Homo sapiens: one gene and its partners. The protein of the gene in region 2 interacts with the protein of the main gene of each other region in a pairwise test. Each region holds a gene or a part of one and is shown on either strand. Other genes may lie near its edges.

Region 1 (7,025 bases), on a different chromosome or scaffold from region 2:
CACCCTCAAACTGAAGGCCTGGGGTGGGACATAACAGAAAACATCCTCATCCCCCTCCCGCTCTAAGCTTAGAAGCCCACTGTATCCTTGGGAGCAGCAGTGGACTCCCTGTGCCGTCTTGGGGGCGGGCGGTGTGTGGAGTGGTCAGACTGTGTCTTTACCGTGCCTTCTCTCTCTCTGGCTGGGTAAAAACTTCCTGCTACTGCTGCGGGGTCACTTCCTCAAACCTGAGGGGCATACGAGGGGCATATGGAAAGTAGGTGGGGCAATAAGGGTTGTAGTGGGGTCAGGCATCAGCAAGAGCAATGAGTTCATTTTTGTTTTCTTTTTTTGATTGAGGTAAATAAAAAAGCTTTATCCAGCAACACGGAGATAAGAGTCTGTCCAACCCGACAAGTTCCAGACCCCACCCTGCCCTCACATCAGGCTCTTCCGGTACTGACTGTGCGGGGTGGTCTGTCTGAGGTGGGAGTCCGGGGTCTGCAGGTCCATCTGTCTGTACAGGTCTCTCAGCTCCCTGACCTCCTGCAGCACCCTCTTTGCCTGGCTCCAATTCGATGATGCCTCTCCCAGCAGCCGTTCCGTCTCCAGCAGCAGCTGCTCTGACTCAGAATCCGGCGGAGACCGAGGGGGGTCCTTGGCCTTTCGCTTCCCATCTCCCAGTCCCTGAACCTCTGCCAGAAGCTCCTGAGTCTCCTCCAGTTTCCTTGCTACCAGGTCCTGGATCCGGGACAGCTGCCCCGGGTTGGGGAGGGCAGGGGTTGGGGGTTCCTCAGCCCGCAGCTGGAGGGTGCGGGCAGAGGCAGCATCCCGCTGAGATAGGATCTCCTCCAGGGAGGCGCAGCGGCCTTTCTCTGTGGGCGTCAACTTCTTGGGTGCCTGGGGGGTGTAGGTGGCCCCTTTGTCTGTTTTTTCCCAAGGTCGGGAGAGACTGCTTGCCCGGTCTGCGGAGGGCTGGATGCGGTCTGAGTCCGCTCTCCGCCGGCTCCCTGCCAGCTGGGCCACAGACTTGTCCAGGTCAACCCGAAAGCTCTCAGCACAAGAGGTTGGTTCCTCAGGGGAAGGGTCTTCCTCTTGGATCAAGTCCAAGGTCAGCATCCCATCCGAGGTAGAGGTGGAAGCCTGTGGAGGAAGGGGGGAATGAGTGGGGAACCTGTCATCAGGAGGGATTTTCGGAATGACTGCCTAAAAGATGCAAGCTGTGGTCATTTTCCTCTACAAGCCTTCCTTGAATGAGAAGTACTTTTTTTTAGAGACAGAGTCTTGCTCTGTCACCCAGGCTGGAGTGCAGTGGCACGATTTGAGCTCACTGCAAGCTCCGCCTCCCGGGTTCACGCCATTCTCCTGCCTCAGCCTCCCGAGTAGCTGGGATTACATGCGTGCACCACCACGCCCAGCTCTTTTTTTTTGTATTTTTAGCAGAGGCAGGGTTTCACCATGTTGGCCATGGCTGGTCTCAAACTCCTGACCTCAAGTGATACACCGTCTCAGCCTCCCAAAGTACTGGGATTACAGGTGTGAGCCCCCCTGCCTGGCAAAGCCCTCTGCTCTTGACTGAACCCTCCTACTGAATGTGCTGTTTCTTATTCCTTTGATAGTGACTTGAATGTTTCTTCTTCTGTGATTTAGTTTGTTACTTGTTTCCTGTATTCTCCACTCTACCATAAGCTTCCTGAGGGGCGCCCTCTTCCTTGGTATTGTGGACTCTCAGCAATTAAACTGCATCTGATGCACACAGGATGCTCCCCATGGCACGACTGTCCTCCTCCATCTGCATCCTCTGAGTCCCACACTTCAGCCCCCTTGCCTTATAATAAAATTTGTTCTCTTATTTCCAGAATACTAAAAATGATGAGTATTCAATACCAAATATGTTGTTTTAGTCATTCCTCACAGCAGCCCTTCAAGGCAGGCATGATTACTGCCTCATTTTACAGTTGGAGACATGCAACTTCAGGGAACCACACAGGTAGCTGATTACAGTGAGGTTCCAACTCAGGTTCTAACTCCAAAGCCTGTGTTCTCTGCATTATACCTGCCTGCCTCTCTCTCTGAAGACTTAAGAGCTCAGAGGCATGAAAGAAACTAGCACGTTGTATGTTTCAGGAGTTCATTGTGATCCTTTCTCCTCCAAACACCCGCGGTACTACATGTTGTTACCCATCAAGACAGCCACCATACAGTAGCTAATTTTTCATTTTCCTGTGGGTATAACTCATTTTCTCCGAAAGAGGGTAACATTACTGGGAGCTGGGACTTTTGAACTCCTAATGGGCGCTGAATAAAACCTTTTGATTTAGATCTGGCAGAGGCATTGGGTGGAAGGACTTCCCTCGCCTTTGATCTTGGCATCAAGGAGGCCTCCCGCAAATGCCTCTGGTGGCATACAGTTCTGTCTGAGATGGACTGACACAGAATTGGCCCTTTGGCAATGTTTATTACAGTCTTACATACCACAGCCATTAGGTGTCCCCTTGTTGGGGGGCGGCGGGAGTGCTGGATTTTTGCCCTGTCTCGAGTGGGATGGGCAAGATAGCTGTCCTCCTCAACGGTGACCTGAAGAGATGTACTGTGAATCATGAGTGCTCTTCAGCGACTCGCTGTCCCAACCCAGCATCCCGAGGCCTGAACATGTGCCCACTCCATTCACTGCTTCTGAATGGGCAAGGGGATTTACTGGACACGAAGGGGGCTCTTTAAGCTGACCCAAGGCTGGCTCCCCCATCATGAAGCGGGGAAGAGGAGGTGTCAGATGAGACTTGGAGAGAAGGTAGAAAGAGATCAGGGCTTTTAAAAGGGTGGTAAAGAAGTAGAGCTGGTGGAGGAGCGAGTAAACGGGGCCTGCACAATCCTCCCCCTTCAGTGGGTCACAGCTGTTCCCTCTGCCCCAGCGTTCCTCCCTCTCCCCACAGTGAGCCCCCTGACCTCATCCAAGATACGGTTCTTGGCTCGGGTGATGGCAGAGTTGAGGGCATTGATCCACGATTCCTTCTCTTCTGGACTCACTGCCAGGAAGATCAGGTTGGGTGCCTGTGAGGGGAAGATTCCTGTTTCAGCCAGGGTTTTAGAGGTGGTGCCTCACCTTGACAATGAAGAAATAAGAGATTATAATCTCACTTTCTTAGACCTAGCTCCAGGAAGGAGAGATATTCTGCTTCCAGAGTCATCCATAACTTAAGGAAACCCAGCTTCTATTCCTGCAAAATGCATAGCTAGGAGGTTGTTTTAGAAATGACCAAGGAGGAGCTAAGAAGGATACTGAATATTAGTATGGTATTAGAGATAATTAGAGGAAGTCTGATGAAGGATAGGTATTAAAATACAAATCTTTCAATGTTTGAAGAAATAGAATGTGACAGGAATAACTTCCCTGGGTTCCCTCAGACAAGATGAATTAGATTCAGAACTTCAACCACCTATCAGGGTACAAGGACAGGGATTTTCTTCTAAGGGATGTAAATATGCACATGTGTGGATGTGTGTGTATAAGACAGAGAAAAATAAAGAGATATATAGAGAGATGATCTTTGTGGCTGAACAGGTTAAAGGGTGGCCTGCCTGGAAAGAAGGAAATGGCTACAATATTCTCAGGTGAAATGATAAAAGCCAGCAGGAGAGCAATTCAGGGAATCTGAACCAAGATTGCTGAGAGAGAAACTGAGGGGAAGGAGTTCTCCCCTGCCCCCTCCAACCCTGTCCATGTTCCAGCAGCCAAGGTGGCAGGAGAAACATACCGTGTTACCGGGCTGTTTGGAGTGGGCAAGAGTAAACTTGCTATGATTTTTCTTGCTCCTGCTCTTGGACTTCCGGAGCTCTTCACACTTCTCATAGTCACTCAGGTCAAATACCTCTTGAATATTTTTCTCATCTTTTACCTAGGGGAGGGTTGGGGTGAGGTGAGGAGGATAAAATTATTTAGCCCCTCCACCCAGACTGTTAGTTTAGATCATCTTGGGAAACAGAGGAAGCCTGAGGAGAGGGAGGCACGCCAGGAGAGGAGAGGGCCGTCTGCCCAAAGCCTACAAGGTCCTCACATCGAGGAGGACGCTAGGGCAGCTCCAAGTCTTGAATGTTAAGGTGTGTTTCTGTTTAAACCCCTTCTCTTCACTCTCCTTAGCCAGGCTGCCATTTCCAGAGTCCCACTATGCCTCTCTTCACCAACCGCCCCACTCTTTTCCTTAAGGACACAGCTTACATGTTCTAAAAAGGCTCACGTCCTTAAAGGGACATGGTAGATGGTTGATCCATTGCCCTCAGTAAGACAGACCTGTATGGCCCTTGATGGTCCACAGAAAGAAGATCAAGGCAGGGCCAGTTATCGGGGTGTCTGGAGGGAACGAGGGGCGGTCTCTGGCCTCCCCACTCACATGTGTGCAGTATAGCTCTCCCACCCCACCTCGCTTCCTTCTCTGGTATGTACAATTATAGAGACTCATCTTCCTTGTTCATTTCAGGAGCATCGCCACCACAGGACGGCAGCCCCGTGTTCAGTTTGCTGAATTTGTCCAGAGAAGCTGAAAACTACAATTACAGTTCCTACCCTTTCCTCCTCCCTCTAAGGTACTGTGACAATCCAAACTAACTCCTCCAGACCCCCTATCTCTAGGCAAGAATGCACTTAGACTCTCCCTGGGAGACTACACTTTAGACTTGGAAAAAAGTGACTTCTGTGACTTCTTGCCATTATTCCAGTTTGAGTGCCTGGGCCCCCTTTACTGCCAGGAAGCTCTTCCTCCTATCTAAACTTAGCCCTCCCTGCTATAGTCTCCGTCCCGCACTCTGGTTCCACCTTTAGCAGGTTTTAAGCAACATTTAGCTCTTAGCACTCCTGCTGAACGTCTCATCGAGGCCGCATTCCTAGTGACATTCTCCAACCCCAACTAGCCTTTTCTGAGCACTGCAAAGCAGCTCTAGGAACATTTCTTCGCAGGTTCATCTGAAACTGACCACAATGTTTTCTCTTTTCCCCTAAGGTGGTGTTCCTACAACTCTGGGACTCTGAAGCAGTGGCTTATGGATTTGTTTTGGCTAGCAAGGACCAAAGTTACAGAGAGGAGACTTAGTTACAAGTCCAGACCGTGCAGTCTGTCCACCCTCCGTGGCTTGAGCCCAGGGTTGGAACACCTCAGGAAAAACCTGGTCACGTTTTCCTGGAATGAGAATTAAAAGCACCAGCACTTGTCTCATTAAAACTAAACAAACAGATAAAAGTAGCCTCACGTCTTCCTTGGATGACATCTACCCACCCTGACTGAAATTATTTTCCAAAACAGTCCCCAACTTCCCAAGTTCTGAAATAGGACTCGTGTGCATGGAGGTGAACTCATCTATCCTCCTGGTTCCTGGAAACCTGGAAGTGGGGAAGTGGTTCTCCCTTCCATTACCCAGACCATCTACAGTCTTGTATCTGCCCATCCTTCTGAACTGCTGCTGGACCTGGAGGCTGATGACAGATGAGGACAGATGTCAACATGGCCCCATTCAGGTGAGTGACGCCTCATACATCTACCTCCATTTGTTTCAGCAAGGCTTGGCTCCTCCAGGGCCTCCCACTTTCCAGGGTTCCCTGGCTTTGGGCTGGAAAGTGGCCAGAGGCCTTGAATGATTACGGGTGGAAGTAGGACAAGGTGCTGGCAAGGGGTGTCCAAGAGCAATTCCCAGAAACACGGGACAGGGATACAAGATGATGCATCATCCCTCCTCTCCCCCTCCTTCTCCAGAGCTGAGACTATCAGCAGAGCCCAGAAACCGTGGAGAGGAAAGTGTTGGGTGTGTGAATGTAGCCAGGGGAAGAGAGTTAACTTACTATGTTTTCCTTAGGGGAAGGGAAGGAAAGGGAGTTATTCTACCTTGCATACAGACTGATTAGGAGCTCTGGGGAGCAGGAGACACTGATAGAGGTTAGCCCTTGGTGGAGAGGGTGGGAGATGGGGTGAGGCAAGCAGTAGGACAAGTATATTCCAGTGCCTGGGAAGATGGACAAAGCCAAGCAGCCTTGTTCTCCACCATATTGTTTTTTTTTTCCCCACATATCTAATTCCCAGAGTCTCATTTATAACTACCCATCTTCCAAATTAACCCTTCCTTTCCCCTGATTCTTCGTCCTTGACTATAGAAAGGGATTTTTCCCACGCCTGTCCAAAGAGTTGCCCCGAATCCAATTTCCTCCACCATGAGGTCTTCCTAAGGTCTAGCTTCTGTTCTTACACATCAGCCTGTGATCATAAGGTGCTCCAGCCCTCTTTGAGAGAGGATGCCCTTTGAGAAGGAAGAAAATGATTACTATCGAACACAGAAGAAATTCTACGGCAGAGGTGGTTGTGGGAGACCCTGCCTTTAAGAGAGGAAATAACAAAAGAGACTGGTGAAAATTCTGGGAGATAGGGTTAGAAATTTTCTTGCATTAACAGTAAATGATATAGATTATACTCTGCCTTAAAAAAAAAAATCTTGGTCAGGGACTGTGGCTCACGCCTATAATCCCAGAATTTCAGGAGGTTGAGGCAGGAGGATCACTTGAAGCCAGGAATTTGAGACCAGCCTGGGAAACATAGTGAGACCCCATGTCTACAAAAAATAAAAAAAATTAGCTGGGTGTGGTGGTGCATGCCTGTAGTCCCAGCTACTCCGGAGGCTGAGGTGGGAGGATTGCTTAAGCCCGGGAGGTCAAGGCAGCAGTGAGCTACGATTGTGACACTGCACTCCAGCGTGGGCGACAGAGTGAGACCCTGTCTCTAAAAAACAAAACAAAACAGAACACCGTGTCTTGATTCTATTGGCCCTGGAGCTTTTCACAAGTGGGCAAAATAAAGCCCAGAGTACTCTGTCAATTTCACTTTTTAACCAGGCCCACTGTAGCATTGAAACTGGCTCTAAAAAAGCACAGTATCAATATGCCTAGTCCCTCTTTCCTGTGCCCTTCCCAGCAGGAGACAGCTGGCTCCATGACCAGTCAGATGGTCCTGACTCATAGGACACCAGATATCCTAGGCTGAGGTCATTCCATCCTTTCCTCTGTCTCTGTA
Region 2 (6,904 bases):
ATGATCTCGGCTCACTGCAACCTCCTCTTCCCCGGGTTCAAGTGATTCTCCTGCCTCAGCTTCCTGAGTAGCTAGGACTACAGGTACTCACCACTGCACCCAGCTAATGTTTGTATTTTTGGAGGCAGGGTTTCACCATGTTGGCCAGGCTGGTCTCGAACTCCTGACCTCATGATCCACCCGCCTTGGCCTCCCAAAGTGCTGGGATTACAGGTGTGAGCCACCACTCCTGGCCCCCTAGTACCCTTTTTTAAGGTGTATTTTTCTGTTTTGGCTTTTTTGTCACTTTTAAAAAGCCTTTTGTTTTTCAGGTAATTAAACATCTGAGTGCTAAATCTTTATGCCAGGTGGGGAGGCATGTGAATGGAGGCGAGCTGGTGTGCCCACCCCTCCCCCATGGGCCTTCACACATTCATTCACGCGCACACACTCACACAGAGGTCCAGAAGCTTCTATCCCACTCTGCCGCCCTAGTCATCATATTATGCATTCAAATACACACTTCACATCATACCTTCAGAGTTACTAATAGGATTTTATTATTTAAGTGTAAAATCAGTTTCCCCCCCTTTCCCATTTCTCTGATTTCTAAGGAAAAACGGCACCAGGGGACCCAGGAGGGTGGTCCCATTGGGGTGAACCCTAACTCCACAGCCCTGCTTGCAGACTCTTCCTCCCCACCCTGGGCGTCCCTCCTCTCCCATGCCCTAGGGCCTCAGTCACTCTTCTCCGTGGGCTGAGGCTGGTGCACTGGACAAAGGCTGTCCCTCCACAGGTGGTAGGTGAGGGCTGAAGTCACGGTGAGCCAGGCTAGGTAGGGCAGCAGTAACAGGGCAGCCAGTTTGTTGATGGGATGCCAGATCAGTGCTGTGCTCACCACCAGCCCATACAGCAGCAGCAGGTGCAGCAGGGCCTGGGCATAGAGGCCGGGGGTCAGCTGGCTGCCCGAGAACCAGCACCTCCACCTTTCTGCAGTACCCAGCCCAGCAACGAGCTCAGTCCCTGGGGCTCTGTGCACACCATGGGAGTGCAGAGAAGTCTGCCCACCCATTACCTGCCTGCACTCAATTGCTCTGCTGAATTATGTGCTTCTGGAGCCAGGTGGTTTCACCCTCTCCCACATTACTTCTGCTACTGAGCACTGTGTGCCTTACCAGACCAGGGTTGTGGACTGTGAAAAAGAGAACCAGGACAGTCCAGCTGATGGTGAGCTGAACAGCATAGAGGCCAAGAGGCAGGGCCAGGGGCCACCCCAAGCCCCCTCCCAGGTCCTTCCACACCAGGTAGGAGGCATAGCTGTGGAGACATGGTGGCAAAAACATTCAGTGGGAGGAGGTTCCGTGGCAAATGGAGGAGGCTCTCTGGCATAAGGACTCTTGGATACCCTTGTGGGCTGAAATGGGGGCAGATGGGTTTAGGCATCATGTAAGGGCCAGGGAGGGAGTTGGTGGGAGGAGCTGGGCATGGTGAGGTGGAGGAGGGGCTGGGGAGACTTAGAGAGGGTGGAAGAAGGGCTAACTGGAACCCCAGGCAGGCATAGAGGGTTTCTTACTTTCTGGAGGACCCACTATGGTGGTGAGAGGCAAGACAAAGCGCCTACCTTTGGAGGCCAATATATGGGAGTAATTCAGATATAGAGGACTTGTTCCCACCCCATTGGGTACCAGGGCCATGTGTGAGAAACAAGTACTCACCCCACGACAGAGTAGATGGCTGTCTGTACAAGCAATAAGACTTTGTAGAATGGGCACCAGGACAGCATCCTCGGGCCCTCACACCAACCAGACATGTGATCACGAGTGAACAGCCAGACCAGGATGGGCCCCAGGTGGGGCAGGAGCACAAAGATAGCCCCTTGAAGCCGCATTCACCTTGAAGAGGCAAAATCTGGGGAGGCAGAGAACATGCTAGTGATGAGCCTTCCCCTGCGGCTCCTCGTCTGTCTCTGCCTCCTAACCTGACTCATTTCCTGGCCTGAGCCCCTCAGAGAAGGTCTACTCACGGAGGTCCTTCCTCTCTCCCTGGCCCAGCTCCAGTCCTGTACCTCTGAGCTCTCTCCAACCCCAGGCCACACCTTGCCCATCTCCTGGCTTCCATGGACTTCTTTTCTCCACAGCACTCCTCTGGCACTTGGAGGACACTGCCCAGCACTGGTAACTGCTTCTAAGTGAATAGGCCTTCCTCCAAGTGCTTCTGAGTCCTGGAGATCAGGTCCCGGGTGATGAGCTTTTCTGCAGTGGGCAGCGCTTAGCCAGGTATGTAGCTGGCCCTCACCGAGAACTGTTCTACCTAAGCTGATCTACCAACCTGGAAAGTTCACAATCTGAAGGCAGGAGCCAGAAATTCCTGGGGACTCTTTTCTAGTCACGAATGCGGCAGCACATCTGTCCCAGGCTTATCTCACCATATCAGACTGGCACACTCATGGGGCCCACCCAGGCTGATCTCCTGCCCAAATTCAAACTTGGCCTGTTGACACCGTGGATTCCTTTTTCTGAACTTTTAGCTCTCTTCTACCCCTGGAGCCATGGGGTATGAGCTTCCTGCTCCATCTTTCCATTCCCAGAGTGTCAGGATGTAAGCACAAGCATCCAGGTTTCTTGTGGCCTGACTTTTCAAGGAAACAACTGCCTGGTCTTTGATTAAAAAGCTGCCAAGGTGGCATGTTGCTTTGCATGTCATTTGCATGTGGGACAATGTACAGACCCTCCTCCAGCCAAGGCCCCACCAAGGCCCCACAAATATCATTCTTCTCATTTGTTCATGATATTTCAGCCTCCCCCCATGATTAACCAGATTTGAAGGAGAGAAAACAATCTGATTATTTTCAGTATTCTGGACTGACTATCTAATCCATCCTTTTTTTTTTTTTCTTTTCATACAGAGTTTCACTCTTGTTGTCCAGGCTGGAGTGCAGTGGTGCAATCTCGGCTCACTGCAACCTCTGCCTCCCTAGTTCAAGTGATTCTCCTGTCTCAGCCTCCCTAGTAGCTGGGATTACAGGCGTGCGCCACCATGCCCGGCTAATTTTGTATTTTTAGTAGAGATGGGGTTTTGCCATGTTGGTCAGGCTGGTCTCGAACTCCTGACCTCAGGTGATCCACCCGCCTTGGCCTCCCAAAGTGCTGGGATTACAGGCATGAGCCACTGTGCCTGGCCCTAATCCATCCTTTTCTGTCAAGGGTCAGGGACACTGGTCCTGGAGGTTCTGGGACAGAGCTGAGCAGCATGCCCACCTGTGCATATTTCTACTTGTCTTTCTGTGCTCCTGACTGTCCGTTTGCTCATCTTCTGCCTTCCTGTTTTTCTACATTTCTGTCCAGTGGTGGAGGCCCCCTCCCTGCCCCTCCCTGCCCCCATCCTCTTTTCTCCTGACACCTGCCTCTCCCAGTGCCTCCTGGTTCCTAGGCCTGTGCTCCCCTTACCTCTGGCAGCACACCTCCCAGGCGGGGGGCCTGATGACATATGATGTGTGGAAGGCAGAGGAGGGTGGGGCTGGGAGGAGGGTGGGGCTGGGAGGAGGGTGGAGTGGTGCTCCCTGCTGATCTGCCTTTCTCAGATGAGAAGGGTGGTGACACTGGCTGGGAAGTCCAAGTTGCTGTTTCATGGCCCCAAAGAGTTCCTCTCAGGAGGAGCCCCTCTGGTCTGCCAGACCCTCCTTGGTGCCTGGCCTCTGGAGGCTACCCCTTGATGGAATGTTTGAGGGCTTGTGGTGAGGGTTTGACACTGGCCCTCCTGTGACAGCTCAGCCCCCAGTTATAATGCTGTTGATGCCTGTGGTCTTTGCATCCCATGAACCAGCTCTGTGGCCATGGGAGTGAGTGGTAGGAGCCTTCACATTTCTTCAGAGCCTCCTTATAATTGGGATTGTCCCCAAGAGTGGCAAGAACTAGCTTGGGAAGTGAGTTCATAATCCATGAACACAGCCCCTGGTTATAGCCTCCTGGTTGGCATGACCTTCCTGGCTTAGAACCCTAGCTTGACAGATCTTTCACAAACCCCTAGGACTTTATGACTCAGAGGAGAAGGCAGCTGACAAGTGGAGGTGGGTGGGGAGTCAAGGAGGAGTGACCTGGCGCTTCCTGGCAGAAAGTCCTGCCTCCCAGCCGCCCTAAAGAGGGGTAGGGGAGAGTGTCCCTGTCTGTTGGCAAAGTCCAGCCTCCTGTGTGACTCAGACAGAGCTTTGTTCAACAAAGACAAACACCCCTACCCCACTCCTTTCATTCCCTATCAAAGTTCTGAGCACCCCTTCCTGGCTTGTCTTTAGGCATGAGGTCTGCTTCCCAGGTTGCCCGCTCTCTACCATCTCTGCACTTTGGGGTACTGGGCTCCCCTGGGAGGTTTATTCCACCCTCTCACCTCCACCAGGGAAGGAAGCAGAGGGGAGGGCATTGCAGTCAGAGACAAGAGGCTAGAGAATTATTAACTGAGACAAAAGCAGAGGAAGTTACTTATTTTCTATGGGAGATGATAACTAGGGGCCTGGGGGGGCGTTCACCATGCCTCCTCAACTGCAGGAGGCCAGACCCTGGTGACAACGGTTACCATCTATTGACCACCCATTCTGTGGTGGGCATTTGACATTTATTAGCTCAATAATGACAATTATTATCTCACACAAGGTAGATATTCTTAACTGCATTTGACAGACAAGGGAATTGAGGTTCAGAGGAGTTAAGTAGCTTGCCCAATATTACATACCCAACGTGTGGCTCACCTGGGCTCAGTGTTGGCCAGTTGGAGCCAAAATGCATCCTTTTCCCTCTCAACTGCTTCACTCATTCATTCAAGACATGTTTATTGAACACCTTCTATCTATCAGGCTGTACCAGGAGCTGAGGAGACAGCCGAAAACATGGGAAAAGTTCCACAAGGAGTTTTCATTCTTGTGGTGCCACCGCTCCTAGGCAGAGTTTTAAGAACTCAGAATGGCAAATGGCCCCAAAGTTCAGTTGTCTCCCAACCGGCAGTGTCTCTGCCAACTTTGGGTGGGGGAAGTAGAAAGCACCTTGTGTAAGGAAAAATATGGGTACATCTCAGGTCCACCAGCAACTGGTGAGTCATTAACCGTCTCAGTGGCTCCACTGTCTTCTCTGTGTGGGGAGCGGGTGGAACTAGATGCTCTCTAAGCTCCTTGGACCGGTTGCATTGGCATCAGCTGGGAGCTTCTTTGAGCTGCAGAATCTCAGGCCCCATACTAGACCTACAGAATCAGAGCCTGCATTTTAACAAGATCTCCCAGGTGACTGTTGTGCACATTATAGTTTAAGAAACTCAGATGAAGGTTCCCTCCTCCTCCTATCTGCTATTTTAATAATAGCCTCTGGCTGGGGACAGCCACTCACCAGCAGAGGGCACTGTAAGGAGGGGTTTCAAGGTGCAGCACCTACACCCAGGTTGTCTCCCTGCCTCCCTCCTTCCTTCCAGACCTAGACTGGAAAGTTCACTGACTTCTGGGATCCTCAGCTAATCCCTTACCTGGGCTGGACTTTGCCAATAGACAGGGACACTCTCCCTCACCCCTCTTTAGACAGCTGGGAGGCAGGGCTCTGCCAGGAAATGCCAGGCCACTCCTGCCTGGATTCCCCGCCCACCTCCACTTGTCTGCTGGCCTGCCGACTGAATCTGGCTGACCCTTGTTTCTCGGAGAAGGAACTGGACCAGCCAGCAGCCTCTAAGAGCTCCTAGACGGTAAGTTGAGCACCCCCTTGGGGCAGCTGGAGAGGGGATGGGCATTGTGATGGGGTTACCTGGAGCTTCGGGGGAGGAGCCAGGCCAGCTTAGCCTGCCTGCTGGAGTGTAGGGACCCTCTGCTGGAGGAGGGGAGGAAAATGGGACTTGGCCAATGGGTATGAGGACCACTGGGATGATTCTGTGTCCTGCGGAAATGTCTACTATACTAACAAATGCCATTCATGACTTGGGTTTGGACCATCCATCCCAGTACTTGTTATGTTCTGCAGTAACTGGACATCTATCAGGTGTTGGGGAGGCACAGGGAGAACCAGTGAGGTGGAGGAAAGGTTGAGAGTTTTCTTAAAGGGTATGAGCAGAACTTTGCAGCAGGAGTTTGGATCTTTGTGCTGGAGGATGCAACTGCCTAGGGACAGGTGATGGCAGCATTCTAAAGGACTCTCGTTTCGGGGACCCGCTACCCAGGGTGATCTGGGGTCTGGAGCAAGACAGACTGGAGGAGTGGGTAATGAGGAGTCCAGGCATGGGGTTGGGATGCCCCAAGTCACACTCGAATGGCTGCAGTGCTATAGTTGCCATTCAGCAAGACTCCGGACCTTTCCCCATTCTGGAGCCAGAGGGAGGATGCAGTGAGGGCCAGGGCAGCCTGGAAGAGCAGTCACCCTGGGAGAGGCCCAGTGGGGCTTTGGGAGTGGTGCATGCCAACTTCTCCAGGGTCGGAGGTTGAGCCAGGGGACTCTACTGCACCACCCAGTGAGGTGCACCTCACTGGGGATCTGGACTCTGGTCTTTGGTGGCCCCAGGAAGGTTACTGCTGTGTAAGCGAGCTGGGGCCCCTCCTTTCATCCCTTTAGCAATTCCATCCCCTGCCACTGGTACCTTGGTAGGTGGGGGTGTGGTGTAGTGGGGTGGGTATTACCACATAACTGAGGATGTAAATTTAGGTCCTTCTATTTGTCTTTACTTCATTTTTGCTTCTTTCTCTTCCAACTTTATTTCTTCTAGAGAAGGAAAGGAAGATACTTGGGGAAAAGAAGGGGTGGAGAGAGAAAGGGGGTATCTCTGGAAGTCCTTGTTCGTCTTTGCTCCTCCTTCCTGCCTGTCTTCAGTTGTTTAGTAATTCCCTATCCATCTTCACTGTGGGGAGAAAGCTCGGATTCCTTATCTGTGAAATGGAGATAAAAATAACACCTCGCTCCTAAGGCTGCTG
Region 3 (7,142 bases), on a different chromosome or scaffold from region 2:
TGTGTGCCCTTGTAACCAGGAAGATCTTAACACTTCCATGAACACGCTCGACCTACATTTCTATTCCATTGTCTAAGTCATTCGGCTCTTCCAGGAAAAAGAGAGGAAATCTATTCTTCCCCAGTAAAGCCTTTTACGTGCAGTAAAAAATGCATACAACAAACCCGCCACCCCAGCCAGCCCCAGCTCTATCAAACCACCACGGGGCTTCTATCTCCTTCTGCGGCACAGCTGTGGGTTCTGCTGGTCAGGTGTGCCCTATGCCTACGAGGAGCTCTCGGCCTCCCCGCAGGTGAGGACACCTCCTGGACCCACTCTTGTAGCTCCATTCCTGCCTCTCCTCCACCGCAGGGGTCAGGCCACCATCGTCAGGTGACCTCGGCCCCATGCTCACAGCCATTGCCCTTGGTCTCTGACCCCTTCCTCCTAAAAAGTACATCTAACCTGCCTATGTCCCTTGGTGCCACCCCACCGCACCCCCTACAACATGGAACTCAGCCCCCTGGCATGCAGACAGGCCCTTCAGCAGCATCTGCACACAGGGCAGTTACCACAGAGGTCAGCTGCACCCCACCTCCTGCCCCTGTCATCCCAGATAGGTCCTGCAGCTCCAGCCTCTACATGCTGGAGTGTTTCTAGAGAAACACTTTCTGCCGCCAACACCCCCACACCCTCCTCTCTGCCTCTGCAAAGTCTTCCTGTGATGCTCCTAGGCCAAGCAAGTGGCTCTTCTGTCACCCAGAGTTCTAGAATGTCCTGTGTCCAGGGCAATCTCTGGCACACAGCAGATGCTTAAAAGATACTGGTTGAATGAGTCCTGACCATACCATTAACCCAGCACTCACCAAACTGCCCTAAAAATGCCTGTTTGCAGCCGGGCGCGGTGGCTCACGCCTGTAATCCCAGCACTGTGGGATGCCAAGGCGGGCGGATCACCTGAGGTCAGGAGTTCGAGACCAGCCTGACCAACATAGAGAAACCCCATCTCTACTAAAAATACAAAATTAGCCGGGCGTGGTGGCACATGCCTGTAATCCCAGCTACTCGGGAGGCTGAGGCAGGAGAATCACTTGAACCCGGGAGGCGGGAGGTTGCGGTGAGCTGAGATCACACCATTGCACTCCAGCCTGGGCAACAAGAGCGAAACTCCGTCTCAAAAAAAAAAAAAGGCATGTTTGCTGTCTGTCTCCACGACCAGACCACACCAGGTGCACGGTTCCCTCATCCTCGCCTCTCAGCACCACAAGCCCCGGCATGCGGCGCGCGGCCACAGTGAGTGCTCAACGCCAGGCCCATGGCAGCCCTGGGAGCAGCCGCCCAAAGCCTCCTCAGGCGGCAGCGTGTCCTGCTGAGTTACTTAAACCTGGAAACCACTTGACGTCAGCTGTTCGTAATTTTTAAAAAGTATTAAAGTGCTTTTACCACATCAAAACACAACTACCATATTTTTCAGAAGAAAACACACGTCAGCACATTTCTCTGACATCATGATGAACAGCATCATTTTTCTTTTATGCATTCAGAAAAATACGTGCAAAAATGACAAAAACCTGAAATCAACCTCATGGCTCCAAATCCCAACGTCAAACCAGAGTTTAGCGACGGACGCCAACCCCTGAGAGTCACAAAGCCTTCCCTCACTTTTTTTTCTTAACCAACCAAACAAGCAGCAGTGACCCCTTTGCCTTCGAGGGCCACTCAGCTGACCAAGGGCAGCCCAGACGCTGCTGGCCCCCACCCAGCCCCCAGGCCGAACAAGCACCCAGAGCACACGCAATGCCCTGACATACCCAGCACACCAGGACTGGGATCCAGTTCCTCAACCCGCAAAGCTCCGTAGGGGAAAAGTGCCTCACAACGCAACAAGAAGCTCCTCCCAAGGGTCTCAACACTGAGCTGTGAGTCCCTGGGGGACACTCGGGAACTCCAATGGGGAAGAATACAGTGCGTTAGGAAGCCAGTGGGTGGGGAAGTCTATGCCCCACGGACACAAGGGCGGGACACAGGAGGTGGGTGGACGGCACCAGCCCCGTAGGGCATCTGTGAGCTCTGCCACGGGCTCCCAGTGTTTTGGAGCCTGAGAAGGAGACTGACCTGTGTGGCAAGAAACTATAAGCAGCTTATATAAAAATGTGGACTGGAAAGCCACAGCAGCCTCCCCAAAGGAAGCCCGACAGGAAGCGGGGCAGGAGGAGCAGGTCCTTAGGGAAAAAGGCAAGAGGAAGAGGGAGGACTGGGAGGGGAGCCTGCACAGGTGGCTCCGCAGCCCCCCTGGGCCACCACACAGCCACGCTGACCTCTGGCATCATGGCCTCCAGCAGGCTGCCCACCCCTGGCTCCCCAGCGCTCAGGTCATGCCTGAACTGGCCCTCAGGAAGTGGGGGGTTCCTGGTGACCACAGGTGCCCACCCACCCCAGGGCTTCTCCAGGACAGGTGGGGGGAGCCAGGATGGACGAAGGCAGGGCAGGGGCAGAGCTGCACAGGGGGGACCAGTAGGAGGCGGGGCTGCCACAAAGAAAAGGGGGGCAGGGGGCAGGTGTGTGCAGGGCAGGGCCAGGTCAGGTGAGGCTAGGCAGGTCACCAGGGGCAGGTGTGCGGGGCAGGTGTTTGGGGTAGGTGGGGCAGGCTGGTCACCTGGGGCAGGTATGTGGGGCAGGTGTGCGGGGCAGGTAGGGCAGGCCGATCACGTGGGGCAGGTGGGGAAGGCTGGAAACGTCGAGCAGGTGTGCGAGGCAGGTATTTGTGGCAGGTGGGGCAGGCTGGTCACCTGGAGCAGGTACGTGGGGAAAGTGTGAGGGGCGGGTGGGGCAGGTGTGAGAGGCAGATGTGAGGGGTGAGCTAGTCACGTGGGGCAGGTGTGCAGGGCGGGTGGGGCGGGCGGGTCACGTGGAGCAGGTGTGAGGGGCAGGTGTGCAGGGCGGGTGGAGCGGGCTGGTCACGTGGAGCAGGTGTGAGGGACAGGTGTGGCGGGCTGGTCACCTGGGACAGTTGTGCGGGGCAGGCGCGCGGGGTAGGCGCGCGGGAACCGGACGAGGCGAGAGGCCGGCGGGCGCACTTGCCTGCGAAGGCTGCGGCAGCGGCGGCCTCGTCGGGGCCGGGCAGGGCCTCGGCGCCCATGTCCATGTGCCCGGGCTCCGCCGCCATCACCGCCACTGCCGTGACCCGCGGCGTCTCCCGCTCCGCCTCCGAGTCTGCGTCCTCCTCCGAGTCCTCGTCCCTGCTCAGCACCGGCTCCTCCGCCTCGCCTCCTGCCGCGGCCGCGGCCGCCGCCGCCACAGCGGCCGCGGCCGCCACCGCCGCCGCCTCAGCCAGGCCCAGCTGCTTTGCCGCCGAGTCCGAGTCCTCCATCCGGACTCCGCCGAGCCTTCCCGAAGGCGCCGTCCGGGACCGCCCGAAGCGCCGGTCGCGGAGCCCGAAGCGGGGCCCGAAGAGGACGCCCGAGCTGGGCCGAGGCCGCCCGAAGCCGCCGCCCGAATAGGGACCGAAAAGGCAGCCAGCCGCCGAGCAGAGCCGAGCCGAGTCCGCCCGCGGAGCGGAGCCGAGGCGAACAGAGGCTGCCCGAGTAGGAGCCGAACCTGCACGAAGCCGCCGAGCCGAGACCGAGTCCTGAACCGAGGAGGGTCGAAGTTCCCCGAAGTGGGAAGCCGAATCAGTCCGAATAGGTCCGAGTCCTCACGAGGGCTTCCGAGAGACTCGGCCCCTGCTCTCCTCACTGTCCTGACAGGCTGAGGCGGCTGTCGTCCCCGGCCGACAGGGCTGGACGGCTCTAGGCAGATTCTCGCCGGCGGCCGGCGCAATTCTGCCTCTCAGAGAGAGCTTAGTGCCGCGGGTTTCGCCCGTTCCCGCCGCCGGCGGAAGCCGAGTCAGCCCGAGGCCGAGCCGAGACGAGCCGAATGTCCCCGAGGCCGAATGCTCCCGAACGTCGGTTCTCCACCTCTTCCCTTCCGAAAGTGCCCGAGCGGTGCCGGACGGACTAATCGGGCCTCGGCCGTGGCTCGGACGTCCGCTCCCGAAACGCGGCGCGGTCGGGCCCCTTCGTCAGGAGACGCGAAAATGGCCGAAGGAGCGCGAGCGCGCGGGCCGAGAGGCTGCCGGGATCGCGACGGACCGGCGGGCGGGGCGGGTAAGATGGCGGCCCCGCGGCGAGGTGAGCTCGGGCGGGGTGGGGGCTTCCGGGCTTGCAGCGGCGGGCGCGGCGTTTCCCTGTGGTGACAATCCGGTTTCCGCTTTCGGTGCGCTCACGGGGCCGTGCCACCGTCTCTACGTGAGCGAGACAGCTCCGTCACCCCATCGAGAAGCGCGGCCTGGCCTGGCCTGGGTGGCGGGCGTCCTGCACCCCGAAGAGCTCCCCCGCGCGCGGGCGCCTGGCCCCGGGCAGGGTGGGTGCGGAGCGGCTCTGGGGGCCCCAGTCCCCGGCAGCTCTTGTCCCGCGCGTGGTTTTTGTGAAGACACGTGGGCGGGATGGGCGCAGGGTTTCGGTAGCCTTGGAACTCTCGCCAAAGAAAATCGCGGGCGCCGGTGCCTCAGCCGTCCTGCCTGAGAGACTCGCCTCCGAGAGGAGGAAGGGACAGACCAAAGCAGTAAATCGGCCATCCTGCAGAGGAGCCGCCTTCTGCTGTCTGTGGGTACAGCCAGAACTCCCATACGCGGGCGCTGAAGTGCCAAACCTTCGTGCGTGTTCTCTAGTAATTAGGTGCATTGTTTTGAAGGAATAAAGAATGGCTACTCCATAGGCAGGACAGCCTCTAGTAACCAGGTTTGTTTTGTGTATTTTCATTTGGTTAAAAATTAAGTTTAGGTTGGGCGCAGTGGCTCAGGCCTGTAAGCCTGACAGTTTGGGAAGCCGAGGCTGCAGGATCATTTGAGGCCAGCCTGGGCAACATAGCAAGACCCCCTCTATAAAAAAAAAACTGTAAACATCAGCCAGGCGGTGGCGCACCCCTGTGGGCCAAGCTATTCTGGAGGCTGAGGCTGGCGGATCACTTGAGCCCAGGAGGTCGAGGTTGCAGTGAGCCGTGATGGCGCCACTGCACTCCAGCCTGGGCGACAGAGCGAGACCCCCTTCTACAAAAAAAAAATTAAAAATTACCCCGGGGAAGGCCAGGCGCAGTAGCTCACGCCTGTAATCCCAGCACTTTGGGAGGCCAAAGCGGGCGGATCACCTGAGGTCGAGGGTTCAAGACCAGCCTGACCAACATGGAGAAACCCCGTCTCTACTAAAAATACAAAATTAGCCTGGCGTGATGGTGCATGCCTGTAATCCCAGCTACTTGAGAGTCTGAGGCAGGAGAATTGCTCGAACCCGGTGGTGGTGGTGGGGGGGGTGGGGTGCGGAGGTTGCAGTTGGCCAAGATCGCACCATTGCACTGCAGCCTGGGCAACAAGAGCGAAATTCTGTCTCAAAAAAAAAAAAAATTACCTCAGGGAGCCTGTGGTCCCAGCTACGTGGGAGGCTGAGGCTGGCGGATCACTGGAGCCCAGGAGGTTGAGACTGCAGTGAGCTGTGATCAGGCCACTGCACTCCAGCCTGGGCAACAGAGCAAAACCCTGTCTCTAAAAAAACTAAGTGTATACCAAAACAAGATTTCTTAACACATCTTGTCCATTACATCAGGGAAAACACTTGTTCTCTTTCACTTCCATGTTTAACTTCTGCCTGACACAGCTATTCGTAGCCACATTGTGATTATAGTAAGTCACTGACAAAAAATGTTGTCCTGAAAGCCAAGGCTACGTTCGGTCAGAATGAGCTCCTGCAGGTCTGGAATTGTTAGAACAGCGTATCTGGTTATAGCCGCCCTTCATATTAATTATTAAAATGTTACATCACTTAAGGCTTTTATACAGTTTTTCCCCCAAGCCCCATAACTTCAATCTATAACAGTGAGCAACTAGCAGACACATTGGAAGTGTTTAAGAAGCCAGCCTTTAAGAAAAGGAACAGAAGGGACAAAAACCCCAATTAATGCGAAATCATCACAGATAATGACAGGTATTTAGGTGGCCTGGTTTAGCTAAGGCCTGGAAAAGAACAGATCGGGTTTAAAGAGTGGCCTGCCGGGAACGCGATGCGGCGTGGTCTGCCGTGCACTTGGCTTCCTGCTTCCATCCTGTGGTGCCTCTTCCAGGAGCCCAGTTCTGAGTCTCTGATGCCGATGTCCTGTATTTACTGGCTTAAAACTCTTGCCTGTGTGAGATTCCACAAACTCTGGCACAGAAGGCCCCAGATCTGCCCAAGAAGCTGTGGGATCAGCCACAAAATCTCACCAACGCCAGGTTTCTGTCCTGCCCTCCCTGGCGCTGAAGGGGAAATAGAACAGAGGCTGTGTTCAGGTTGCTGTCCTGCCTGCCGCCCAGCGGTGCAGCTTGAGCCTCCTTTTATGAGAGGTTTCCACCCAATTCTAGATGTGTATTGAGGTATCTACACATGGAGGGACGTGCACATATCACACGTGCAACTGGCCTGAGCCCTTTTCAGACAATTAGTCCGCTCCAGGTCAGCGTGGATCCAGGGTGAGTCAGAGGCGTCTTCAGATGCAAAACCTCAGAATCAAAAAGGAGGAAAGAGACTCCACTCACTCCTCGGGCTTCCTGTCATCTCTCAGGTGGGGGTGGGAGAAGGCCCAAGAGGTTGCATGATAAAAAGACTGGACAGCTGCATTGCTGGTTTGGAAAATCCTTATTTTTGGAGGGATATTTGGGGATAAAATTTCAGAGGAAAGCAAATGTCTCATCAATCATGAAAAAAGATTTGTTACAACCTAAGTCAGAAAAGGTTTTCATCTAGTCATATATGTGTGGCAAATACGGAGAAGCCACAGACGGTGAGCCACAGACAATGAGAGCAGCTGTTGGGGTGGGCTCCAGGGTGCTGCTTTCCCTGAGGGCCAGCTGGGTCTGGCCCAGGTTCACTTCCCACCCCGGTGCCCCCGGTACTCGCTGTCTCCAGCCTCAGGTTCTGAAAGGCAGAGACTCCTAGCCTCATTGAAGGATGGTTAGAGAGGCACGGGAGCTATCTAGTGGCAGGCCCACGGTATATGTTTGCTGCTTTCTACAAATACGAGATCAAAGGAAAATAAAGCAGGGGTGGTTCCTGTCAGTGTGGAGCGAGACCCGGGAAAGCATCCTGGTGGCTGTCAGG

What was found.
Region 1: the proteins of TSPO2 (region 2) and PLEKHO1 interact in binary tests that used the Homo sapiens proteins (3 or more experiments, as listed by UniProt).
Region 3: the proteins of TSPO2 (region 2) and TMEM80 interact in binary tests that used the Homo sapiens proteins (3 or more experiments, as listed by UniProt).

Annotation. Positions count from the first base shown.
Region 1 is NC_000001.11:150,152,916-150,159,940, reverse strand, and holds part of PLEKHO1 (pleckstrin homology domain-containing family O member 1), read right to left. Parts: intron 3,876-7,025; coding exon 3,735-3,875; intron 3,031-3,734; coding exon 2,926-3,030; intron 2,557-2,925; coding exon 2,455-2,556; intron 1,123-2,454; coding exon 418-1,122; 3' UTR 1-417. UniProt on the Homo sapiens protein: Plays a role in the regulation of the actin cytoskeleton through its interactions with actin capping protein (CP).
Region 2 is NC_000006.12:41,037,949-41,044,852, reverse strand, and holds TSPO2 (translocator protein 2), read right to left. Parts: upstream 2,387-6,904; 5' UTR 2,075-2,386; exon of another isoform or gene 2,045-2,074; intron 1,888-2,044; 5' UTR 1,868-1,887; coding exon 1,695-1,867; intron 1,297-1,694; coding exon 1,155-1,296; intron 914-1,154; coding exon 716-913; 3' UTR 516-715; downstream 1-515. UniProt on the Homo sapiens protein: Cholesterol-binding protein involved in the redistribution of cholesterol from lipid droplets to the endoplasmic reticulum. Required to meet cholesterol demands during erythropoietic differentiation.
Region 3 is NC_000011.10:691,699-698,840, forward strand, and holds the start of TMEM80 (transmembrane protein 80), read left to right. Parts: upstream 1-4,124; 5' UTR 4,125-4,129; coding exon 4,130-4,148; intron 4,149-7,142. Other genes in the region: DEAF1 (deformed epidermal autoregulatory factor 1 homolog), read right to left, coding at 3,061-3,349.